Homo sapiens: one gene and its partners. The protein of the gene in region 1 interacts with the protein of each later gene in a pairwise test. Each region holds a gene or a part of one and is shown on either strand. Other genes may lie near its edges. The genes, in order: TNFRSF10D, PCYT1A and MTERF4.

Region 1 (3,828 bases):
GATCTCAGCTCACTGCAAGCTCCACCTCCCAGGTTCACGCCATTCTCCTGCCTCAGCCTCCCCAGCAGCTGGGATTACAGGCGCACACTGCCACGCCTGGTTAGTTTTTTGTATTTTTAGTAGAGGTGGGGTTTCACCGTGTTAGCCAGGATGGTCTCGATCTCCTGACCTTGTGATCCGCCCTCCTTGGCCTCCCAAAGTGCTGAGATTACAGGCGTGAGCCACCGTACCCAGCTACGCCCCGTTAATTTTTGTATTCTTTAGTAGAGACGGGGTTTCACCATGTTGGTCGTGCTGGTCTTGAACTCTTGACATCGTGATCCGCCTGCCTCGGCCTCCCAAAGTGCTGGGATTACAGGTGTGAGCCACGGTGCCCGGTGCTACTGATTTTTATACATTGATTTTGTATCCTGAAATTTTGCTGAAGTCGTTTATTAGTTCCAGGGGCCTTTTGGTGGAGTATTTAGGGTTTCCAAGGTATAGAATCATATCGTCCATGAAGAGTTTTCACTTCTTCATTTCATATCTGGATGCCTTTTCTTTCTTTCTCTTGCCTGAGTGCTCTGACTAGGACTTCCAGTACTATGTTGAATGGGAGTGGTGAGCGTGAGCATCCTTGCCTTGTTCCAGTTCTCAAGGGGAATGCTTCCAGCTTTGGCCCATTCAGTATGATGTTGGCTGTGGGTTTGTCATAGATGGCTCTTACCATTTTGAGGCATGTTCCAATGGGAACTTTCTAATGTTTTTTAACATCCAAAAGAGCAAACACCTCTTCCATACTTTTTCAAAATGTATTATTTTACCCAGATAAAATTTAGAATTAAAAGATTTCCTCCATCCTTCCCTCCCGAAAAACCTCAGTTGCCGTTTTATCAATTCGCTTTAAAATTAAAAATTAATCTAGAAACACTGAATATTTTATTAATATTCAGTATTTCCTTATCAAAGGAGATAACATTTGGTGTCAAGTATTTTATTGTAACTGAGTTGTGATTTGTGTTCCTCTTCAAATAAATTATTCCTGTTTCTTATGGCTGTTTAGTATTTTGTATCCATTATGAGTTGGATAACCTTGTAATTCTGTTTGCTAATTTATTGCATTTGCTATGTTTTTAACATTCCTCCAGACATACATTTCTATTTCAATATTGTAGTTTCATCTTAGGGGTTTTAAATGACGTTGAAAATAATGATTATTGTGTCTGCCCTCTTCCAAAAGTCTTGCCTCATTTTAATTTTCCATCTTGTTGCCTAGGCCAGACCTTTCAGAACAATATTCAGCTGTGCTTAGGGAAGGCAGGTGTTTGGGTCCTGATTTGATTTCTGGGGAAGGCCTCCAAAGTGTCACTCTTAGCAATGGCATTCACTTTTGGTTTCATATAGAAATTCTCATCATCAAGAACACAGCTTACTATTCTAAAAGGGTTTGAAAAAAATCAGAATTGCTGTTTAATTTTACCAAATGTCTTTCCAGCCTCCATAGAGACTGCCATTTTATTTAATTACGCTATTGATATGGTAGAGTACTGATGATCAAAGATCATTTACAGTCTTGGGATAAATCATTTTGTTAGGTTTTCCTGGGTGCTCTCATATATAGTCTGCCGAGACTCTGCTGGTAAGAATTCTGGAAGGAAGTGATCATTTCTTGTGAGGGTGGGTGGGAGTTGATTAGATGGGGCAGAAGGGGACTTTCTGGGGTGTGGCAGTTTCTATGTCTTGATCAGGGGATAATTACACAGGCCTATAGTCAAAGTTGGTCAGAACACTTACAAAGTGAGCATTTACTGCATGTCACTTATGTCTCAATGAGCCACCAGCACACAGAGCCCAAGAGCTATGGAGGACCAGAGGTTTGTCTCCATCTCCATGGAGACCCAAGAGGGAAAGCGCTGCAGGTCTCTTGCTGGCTAGTGGTCAGGGTCAGTACTAGACTGCAGGACTCCTGACTCTGACCAGAGCATTCCCCACTGTGTGTTACAGGAACAGGCAGAAGCTGAAGGGTGTCAGAGGAGGAGGCTGCTGGTTCCAGTGAATGACGCTGACTCCGCTGACAGTAAGTGTTTTGTGCCTTGAGACGCAGCAGGAGGACAGGGAATAGGGACGGTGTCCTAACTGCTGTCCCTATAGCTGAGAGGGCTCTTCTGGAGGTTTCACTGCTGGAAGCAGGGGGCCCCATGTCGATCCTGTGCTGATCGTCCTTGGAGCATTGAGACCCTAAATCTCTTCTCTCTTCTCAGTCAGCACCTTGCTGGATGCCTCGGCAACACTGGAAGAAGGACATGCAAAGGAAACAATTCAGGACCAACTGGTGGGCTCCGAAAAGCTCTTTTATGAAGAAGATGAGGCAGGCTCTGCTACGTCCTGCCTGTGAAAGAATCTCTTCAGGAAACCAGAGCTTCCCTCATTTACCTTTTCTCCTACAAAGGGAAGCAGCCTGGAAGAAACAGTCCAGTACTTGACCCATGCCCCAACAAACTCTACTATCCAATATGGGGCAGCTTACCAATGGTCCTAGAACTTTGTTAACGCACTTGGAGTAATTTTTATGAAATACTGCGTGTGATAAGCAAACGGGAGAAATTTATATCAGATTCTTGGCTGCATAGTTATACGATTGTGTATTAAGGGTCGTTTTAGGCCACATGCGGTGGCTCATGCCTGTAATCCCAGCACTTTGATAGGCTGAGGCAGGTGGATTGCTTGAGCTCGGGAGTTTGAGACCAGCCTCATCAACACAGTGAAACTCCATCTCAATTTAAAAAGAAAAAAAGTGGTTTTAGGATGTCATTCTTTGCAGTTCTTCATCATGAGACAAGTCTTTTTTTCTGCTTCTTATATTGCAAGCTCCATCTCTACTGGTGTGTGCATTTAATGACATCTAACTACAGATGCCGCACAGCCACAATGCTTTGCCTTATAGTTTTTTAACTTTAGAACGGGATTATCTTGTTATTACCTGTATTTTCAGTTTCGGATATTTTTGACTTAATGATGAGATTATCAAGACGTAGCCCTATGCTAAGTCATGAGCATATGGACTTACGAGGGTTCGACTTAGAGTTTTGAGCTTTAAGATAGGATTATTGGGGCTTACCCCCACCTTAATTAGAGAAACATTTATATTGCTTACTACTGTAGGCTGTACATCTCTTTTCCGATTTTTGTATAATGATGTAAACATGGAAAAACTTTAGGAAATGCACTTATTAGGCTGTTTACATGGGTTGCCTGGATACAAATCAGCAGTCAAAAATGACTAAAAATATAACTAGTGACGGAGGGAGAAATCCTCCCTCTGTGGGAGGCACTTACTGCATTCCAGTTCTCCCTCCTGCGCCCTGAGACTGGACCAGGGTTTGATGGCTGGCAGCTTCTCAAGGGGCAGCTTGTCTTACTTGTTAATTTTAGAGGTATATAGCCATATTTATTTATAAATAAATATTTATTTATTTATTTATAAGTAGATGTTTACATATGCCCAGGATTTTGAAGAGCCTGGTATCTTTGGGAAGCCATGTGTCTGGTTTGTCGTGCTGGGACAGTCATGGGACTGCATCTTCCGACTTGTCCACAGCAGATGAGGACAGTGAGAATTAAGTTAGATCCGAGACTGCGAAGAGCTTCTCTTTCAAGCGCCATTACAGTTGAACGTTAGTGAATCTTGAGCCTCATTTGGGCTCAGGGCAGAGCAGGTGTTTATCTGCCCCGGCATCTGCCATGGCATCAAGAGGGAAGAGTGGACGGTGCTTGGGAATGGTGTGAAATGGTTGCCGACTCAGGCATGGATGGGCCCCTCTCGCTTCTGGTGGTCTGTGAACTGAGTCC
Region 2 (3,600 bases), on another chromosome or scaffold:
CGAGATTGCGCCACTGCACTCCAGCTTGGGCGACAGAGCGAGACTCAGTCTCAAAAAAAAAAAAAAAAAAAATTAAGTACTTGTACATGTTGCAGTACGAATGAATCTTCAAAACAAGCTCAGTGAAAGAAGCCAGCCCCAAAGACCACATACCGTATGATGTCATTTGTATGAATGTCCAGAACAGGCAAATCCACAGAATCAGAAAGCAGATTAGTGGCTTCCAGAGGCTGGAGAGACTGGGGGGAAATGGGGAGTGACTGCTAATGAGTACAGGCCTTCTTTCTGGGGTGATAAAAATATCCCAGGCCAGGCATGGTGGCTCACACCTGTAATCCCACACTGTGGCAGGCTGAGGCAGGAGAATCGCTTGATCCAGGAGACTGAGACCAGTCTGGGTAACATAGTGAGACCCCATCCCTACAAAAACAAATTTAAAAATTAGCCAAGCATGGTGATGTGCACCTATATTCCCAGCTACTTGGGAGGCTGAGGTGAGAGGACTGTTTGAGCCCAGAAAGTTGAGGCTGCAGTGAACTATGATCACACCACTGCACTGCAGCCTGGGTAACAGACCAAGACCCTGTCTCAAAAAAAAAAAGAAAAAAATTCTAAAATTGGTCATGGTGATGGTTGCACAACTCTGTGAATAAACTGAAAACCACTGAATTGTATACTGTAAATGATATGTCAATTATAACTCAATAAAGCTGTTAAAAAAAGAAAAAAGTCTTGCTTGCTTTTGTTATAGAGTTCAAAGGAGATTCAGAGCTAGAAAGTACAGGTGTACAGTGAGATGGCAGAAAGTTTACTAGCAGACATTCCTCCTCACTAAGGTGGGCCAGGCTGTTGGGTGGATCTCTGACCATTCACCTATGCCAAATAGTCTGTGTGTTTCAGGGAGGAATGTGGAATAGGTAGCAGCAAGTCACTGAACTGATTTCACATGAATATATGAAGCAAAGTAATTTAAAGCATTAAGACTCCCCAGAAGAATTTAAAAAAAAAAAAGATTCCCAGAGTCTAAAGACCAAGAAATTTAAGTTTTCTCAGAGCTCATTCCACTGAAAAGACTGGCTTCCTTTGCTTTATTCCTAGCTACAGTGATTGGCTGATTAGCTGACAGTATCACCTATTTGGTTATAACTTGTTCCTACTCCAAGTGATGTTGCTGAATTGGTACACACCACCATTTCTTTAATCTGAATTATCTAAGAAATATTCAGAAACTAACAATGCCCTGTTTTGTTGATTGCTGAGTCACTTTCTGAGCTTATTTGCTGTAGTATGCAGAATAATGCCCCCCTGCAGATGGCCACACCCATTCCCTGGAGCCTGTGACTGTTTTACCATACATGGCAAAAGAGACTCTGCAGGCCAGGCACAGTGGCTCACGCCTGGTAATCCTAGCACTCTGGGAGGCCGAGATAGGAAGACTACTTGAGCTCAGGAGTTCAAGACCAGCCTGGGCAACATAGCAAGACCCTTACTCTAAAAATAAAAATAAAAATAAAAATAGTAAGCCAGGCATGGTGGTGGGCACCTGCAATCCCAGCCACTTGGGAGGCTGAGGCAGGGAAATCACTTGAACCCAAGAGGCAGACGTTGCAGTGAACCGGGACCGCACCACTGCACTCCAGCCTGGGTGACAAAGCGAGACTCTGTCTCAAAAATACAAATAAAAATAAATAAAAATAAAAATAGTAAAGAGGCTTTGCAGATATGATTAAATAAAGGAAGATTATTCTGGTTTATCTGGGTATACCGAACGTAATCACAAGAGTCCTTGTAAGTGAAAAGGGGAAGTAGGAGGTTCAGAATCAGAGCAGGAGACATGGCAGAAGCAATCGTCAGAGTGATGTGAGCACTGGCTGGTGCCAAGCACTAAGCAATGTGGGAACCCTCTAGAAGCTGGAAAAGGCAAGAAGATGGACTTTCCCCTGGACCCTCCAGCTCTGCCAACACCCTGATTTTAGCCCTCTGAGACCCATTTCAGATTTCTGATATCCAGAACTGTAAGATAATTCATTTGTATATTTGTATTATGGTAATTTGTTACAAATGCAACAGGAAACAAATATATATACTTGCCCTTATGATCAATATCAGCCCTGCAGGCACTTGTCTATTTGTAGGGTATTATTTGCTTTTATTGCTCAAGACAGAGCATTCATTTGGAATAAGTATTAACTGTTTCAGAATAGATTTTTCCCTTTGGGCTGGGAAGCTCTAGAACTAAGCAGTGGAAACTGAGTTTGATCAATGGCTAATAGTCAATATAGGTAAAGAAACATACAATTCTGTCACTGGGATTTTGAAACACAGATTTCATAATAATATTAACAACAGTAGCTTCAATTGTGTGTAAGTGTTCTCTGACATGTTTTTATTATGGAAAGTTTTAGGAAGGGTAGCAAGCTGAGACAGGATAGGCAGTGTGGAGGAAAGCTTTAGGAAGGGTAGCAAGCTGAGATGGGATAGGCAGTGTGGAATGGGGTCTTTCATCTAAGGTTTGGCAATAATTAGGAAATACAAAGATAATTTTCCAGAGATAAAGGAGCATAAGGTAGGCATAAACGGAAAAAGGTTCTCATCTAAGATACAACTAGTAACAGGATGGAGGAATGATAGAGGGAGAAAAAACAGCAGAAAAGACGCACTAGACACCATGAGATGATACGAAGATCAAATCACTGCCTAGAGCCCCAATTTTTCTATTTCATTAGTTTTATTTATTTGTTTATTTACTTTTTATTTTTATTTTTGAGATAGGGTCTGTCTCTGTTGCCCAGGCTGGAATGCAATGGTGCAATCTCGGCTCACCGCATCCTCCGCCTCCCGAGTTCAAGCAATTCTCATGCCTCAGCCTCCCAAGCAGCTGAGATTACAGGCATGCGCCACCACGCCCGGCTAATTTTGTATTTTTAGTAAAGACAGGGTTTCACCAGGCTGGTCTCAAACTCCTGACCTCAGGTGATCCTCCCACCTCAGCCTCCCAAAGTGTGGGATTACAGGTATGAGTCACCGCACCTGGCCATATTTCAATAGTTTCAGCCTAATACACATGCAACTTCCATATTTTCCTAACACTTCTTTTTCTAAACCCAATGTAAAGCTTCTACAACTGAGCTGTGAGTCATAATCCAGTAAAAAGGCAGCAGATTTCCAGTGACTGTGAAAATACACTTACTATTCCTTCTTTTCATTATTTCAGAAGACATGTAACACTGATATCATCAATGTCATATCGGTTTCTACCCTCCCCCTGCCAGGTTAATCTCCACTTACCACTGCACAGCGCTGCACTTTGGAAGGAACCCCATCTTCTTCTGTTGCCCCGTTGGGTCCGGGCGCCTCTTTTCTCCTCTTCCTTGCATTGACCTTGGCTGAACACTGTGCATCCATCTTCTTTTAACTGGTCATAGAAAGTGAAAACAAAAATTTTCTCATTGGGGTGGGAAAAAGTTTGTCACCAGTATTTCAGAGACGTTGACGTGGATACACTCAGCAAAATACCAATTCTACAGCTGCACTTCACCAAGATGAGCCAATGGCATCTGGCAAAACCAGCGAAGCTTCACAAAACACAGGCTCTAGTAG
Region 3 (3,828 bases), on another chromosome or scaffold:
ATCACCAACATATTCAAAAGAGAAAAAAATAAAACCAATTGTTGATATATTGAGTCCCCTTGATGTGAATAGCTCAACATAAGTATCTTATTCAGGATGGGACAGGGCCCTCCCCACAGACACGTGACAACAGATCAAACATGCATTTCCTGTTTCCTGTTTGGTTTGATCTGTCTGCCTCTCAGGTGACTTATAATTTTTTTCATCAAGAGACCAGTTTTAGAATAAAAAATAACTTGAGAAGATTCAAGTAAAGGACCCAAAAGCTTTAAGAGAATGAAAAGCTTCCTTGATATCTCTGGGCCCTTTCGCTCTAGTCCTTCCATCACAGCTATTCCTCCTCGTCGTCGTCCTCATCCTCATCATTGTCCTCCGCCTCGTCGTCGTCCTCATCATCGTCATCCTCATCATTGTCATCCTCATCATTGTCCTCCTCATCATCGTCATCCTCATCCTCATCCAGACTTGCCCTTTTGTCATCAGATGTGCTGCTCTCAGACTCCTCCTCCTCCCGAGCCAGGAGCTTCTTAAAAACTTGAAACTCCTCAACAGAAGTACAGGCTGTCCTGGCCAAAAACTCAGCTTCTGAAACTCTGAGAATGTCCTTGAGCAATGGGTTAGGGATCTGTGTCTGCCCCTTCTTATCAGGGGTTTGGTACCGTCCCAGGCGCTCCAGGTAAATGTGTCTCTGCTTAATCTTGGTTAGTGAATACTGCAAGTACTCACTCTTTACAATGTCTGGATGCTTAATTCCCATCCTGAAGTATGCATACTGGAAGACACAAACACACTTAGGAGTCCCAGATACAGAGTATTGAAACCTATCATTCTATAAACCATAAAAACTTAAGTTGTACAAAAGGATTCAAAAAGAATTGCCTAATTGACAACAGCGAATACCCAGTCTAGGATACTGACATTTGTGTGACAGCCAGCAGTTTCAAAACACTTTCAAATTCATCCTGAGAAACATGGAGCAGGAAATAAAGGGGTGGGAGGGAAAAGGGGCAGGAGGGAGAAGGGGCAGAAGGAAGAGGTGGTATTTTTCTTTAAATGGGGAAGGAAAAGGATGAATATGGAAAGAATAGGCAAAACATTCAGAAAACATCTAGAAATTCGACCTAAGTTGTCATAATTATTACCAAAAAATCGGACAACTGTTAAAATTACATTTTCAAAATCAACATGCAAAATAGATTCTAAGGACAGGAAGGTTTCAGCTATTTTAAAATTAGCTATTTCAGAGTCCCCACTTAGACTCTAAGAATAGGACTGGATCATTCATTATTAATGGCAGAAAAGTTGAAGAATAGGTTTGATCTGTAGTAAAGAAATTAAAGATTTCTCTTTGGCTGATGTATGCAGAGAATCTAGTCTTTCACTTCCTCCACTCAAATATGAGGTGTCCGAGGCTTCTTATCCATATAACTGACCTTCACTACATTTGAAAAACCTGAGAAACTTGCTGTTACTACACTAATCACGGTACCAGTCATTCTCACCTGAAACTACGCTAATCCCATTACCAGTCATTCTCACCTGAAACTACGCTAATCACGCTATCAGTCATTCTCACCTGAAACTTGTATTCCAGTTGACCCAGGTCCTCTCGAAGAACAGAGGGGCAACTGTGCAAAATCTTGGTGACTTGCTGTACCGTGAAAAGGCACTTCTCCTTGAGAAGCCTGACAGTGTCGTTAATGTCCTGCTGGCGCATGGTGAAAATTTCAGGGCAACAGTAAAGCACCCTCTTTAATTTCCCTGCAGAACATTCAAAAAAGGCAAGCATATAATTTCAGGATACTCCAGAAACTCAAGGAGCTAGCTGCACCCAATTTAAGTCCACATTTAAAAACAAACAAGGATCCTCTCCTTCCACAGAGCAAGTGGCAATTTCAGATCTATCTTCCCAGAAGCACCATGGAAATGATACATCTCCCCACTGACTTCCTGACACTCCTCAGACTCACCATCCTTCCCTCCCTATATTCCTGCTTTATTCTGGCCTCCCACCTGAAAGGTGCCAACTTTGTATTTTGGGTCTCCTCTTGCCCTCCTCACTTGGAAAAGAATTTCCCAGGCATTTACTGGAAAGATCAGAGAGTAATATGGGAGAGTAGTTTCCTCCATATTGCTGGTTTGGGTTGATGTTTCCTTCTATAATAAAATAGTCATTGAAGCATTCACAACTAACATTCTCAAGCTGAACTCAATGAAAAGGAGTTCCATCACCATCGTCATCATAACAGTAATAACAATAATAGTAATCATGAGGACACACAACACCAATGCTGACGTCCTGGTTACCAGGGTCACCATATATCTTCTCCAAGCCAGGGCACCTTGAGTGAAAGAGGCCCTATTAAAACCGCACTAACTGGTGTAAACTGGGACTATTCCAGGCCTTCCTAGGGATAGCTGAGCAAAATTCAGTAATGGGAAACTTAAAGTCAACTATTTAAACTGTTAATTAAAATTTTCCTAACATTTGAGTTAGTGATTATCTTAATATGTGAGGAATTTCAGTTTAGGTTTATCTTCATTTCTTAAGGCTGTGCTGAGTTTGCTAATTAATCACCACCACACATAATATATTTAGACTTTTAGATTACACTGTAAGAATCTGTTAAGAAAAATATACAAGGCTACCTTTTTCTTATCTTCTAGAGAAGGAGGCCTGTAGAGATGCTGTGAAATGGTGGATCCTAAACCTTCTACCACTGCCTCAAAAAACATCTTACCAGGAAGAGTCAATAATGCAAAGAAATAATAGTGGAACTCCTCTGGTCAAAGTGGGTAAGGGTCCTTGGAGACCCCCAACTCCTCCAGAAGGCCCTTAAAGAGATTCAAGGAACTTTGAGCATCCTTGAGATGTGAATATTGTTGGGGGCAGGAGTGGGGGATAAATAGAAGGGAAGGCCACTCCACGAGTATCCCAGGAACCTGGCCAGATCTCTCATGTTCCAGAGTAAATCTAAACACTCGACTAGAATCTAAGTCTTTACAAGAGATGTTGGTTTGACATCACATCACAGAGACAGAGCACTAAGACCATTTCATGTTGATTTAAACATCAAATGCTATATGTACACATATTTATCAACATCACATTATCAGCATCAACCCACTGAACACATACCATATGCCCACCACTGCACTAGGTGCTGAAGATCCCACGGTGAACAAGGCAGACAAGAGTCTCTGCCCTGGCACTCAATTTTTTCTTCTAGTCTTAACTCCTCCTCCTTCCCTCTCAAAATGTATTCTGCACAGAAAGCCACTCCTATTCCTCACCTCCAAGCCAAATTATACAGTCCTCTCCAGGAACACTGACATACTCAGAAACCTCCCCTAATCCATCTCACCTTAGGCTGCTCTTTCCCCACCTCTGGCTCCTGTCACACTATATAAAATCTTTTTTTTTTTTTTTGAGACAGCCTTGCTGTCACCCAGGCTGGAGTGCAGTGGCGCCATCTCAGCTCACTGCAACCTCCGCCTCCTGGGTTCAAGCGATTTTCATGCCTCAGCCTCCCAAGTAGCTGGAATTACAGGTGCGTGCCACCAAGCCCAGCTAATTTTTCTATTTTTAGTTGAGTCAGGGTTTCACCATGTTGGCCAGGCTGATCTTGAACCCCTGACCTCAAGTGATCTGCCTGCCTCGGCCTCCCAAAGATCTGGGATTACAGGCATGAGCCACCGCACCCAGCCAAAATCTGCAACTTCTTGTACCTTCTCCAAGCCCAAGCTTTTGCAGGTAACTGGAGCGCTTCCTCATTTGCATAATAGGCAGTTTCAATAACTGGGGACTTTTCTTCAAGACCACACACA

The links.
Region 2: the proteins of TNFRSF10D (region 1) and PCYT1A interact in binary tests that used the Homo sapiens proteins (3 or more experiments, as listed by UniProt).
Region 3: the proteins of TNFRSF10D (region 1) and MTERF4 interact in binary tests that used the Homo sapiens proteins (3 or more experiments, as listed by UniProt).

What each region holds. Positions count from the first base shown.
Region 1 is NC_000008.11:23,136,416-23,140,243, reverse strand, and holds part of TNFRSF10D (tumor necrosis factor receptor superfamily member 10D precursor), read left to right. Parts: intron 1-1,983; coding exon 1,984-2,056; intron 2,057-2,240; coding exon 2,241-2,374; 3' UTR 2,375-3,828. UniProt on the Homo sapiens protein: Receptor for the cytotoxic ligand TRAIL. Contains a truncated death domain and hence is not capable of inducing apoptosis but protects against TRAIL-mediated apoptosis. Reports are contradictory with regards to its ability to induce the NF-kappa-B pathway.
Region 2 is NC_000003.12:196,267,127-196,270,726, forward strand, and holds part of PCYT1A (choline-phosphate cytidylyltransferase A), read right to left. Parts: intron 3,416-3,600; 5' UTR 3,406-3,415; coding exon 3,289-3,405; intron 1-3,288. UniProt on the Homo sapiens protein: Catalyzes the key rate-limiting step in the CDP-choline pathway for phosphatidylcholine biosynthesis.
Region 3 is NC_000002.12:241,095,667-241,099,494, forward strand, and holds part of MTERF4 (transcription termination factor 4, mitochondrial), read right to left. Parts: coding exon 3,730-3,828; intron 1,762-3,729; coding exon 1,577-1,761; intron 773-1,576; coding exon 332-772; 3' UTR 1-331. UniProt on the Homo sapiens protein: Regulator of mitochondrial ribosome biogenesis and translation. Binds to mitochondrial ribosomal RNAs 16S, 12S and 7S and targets NSUN4 RNA methyltransferase to the mitochondrial large ribosomal subunit (39S).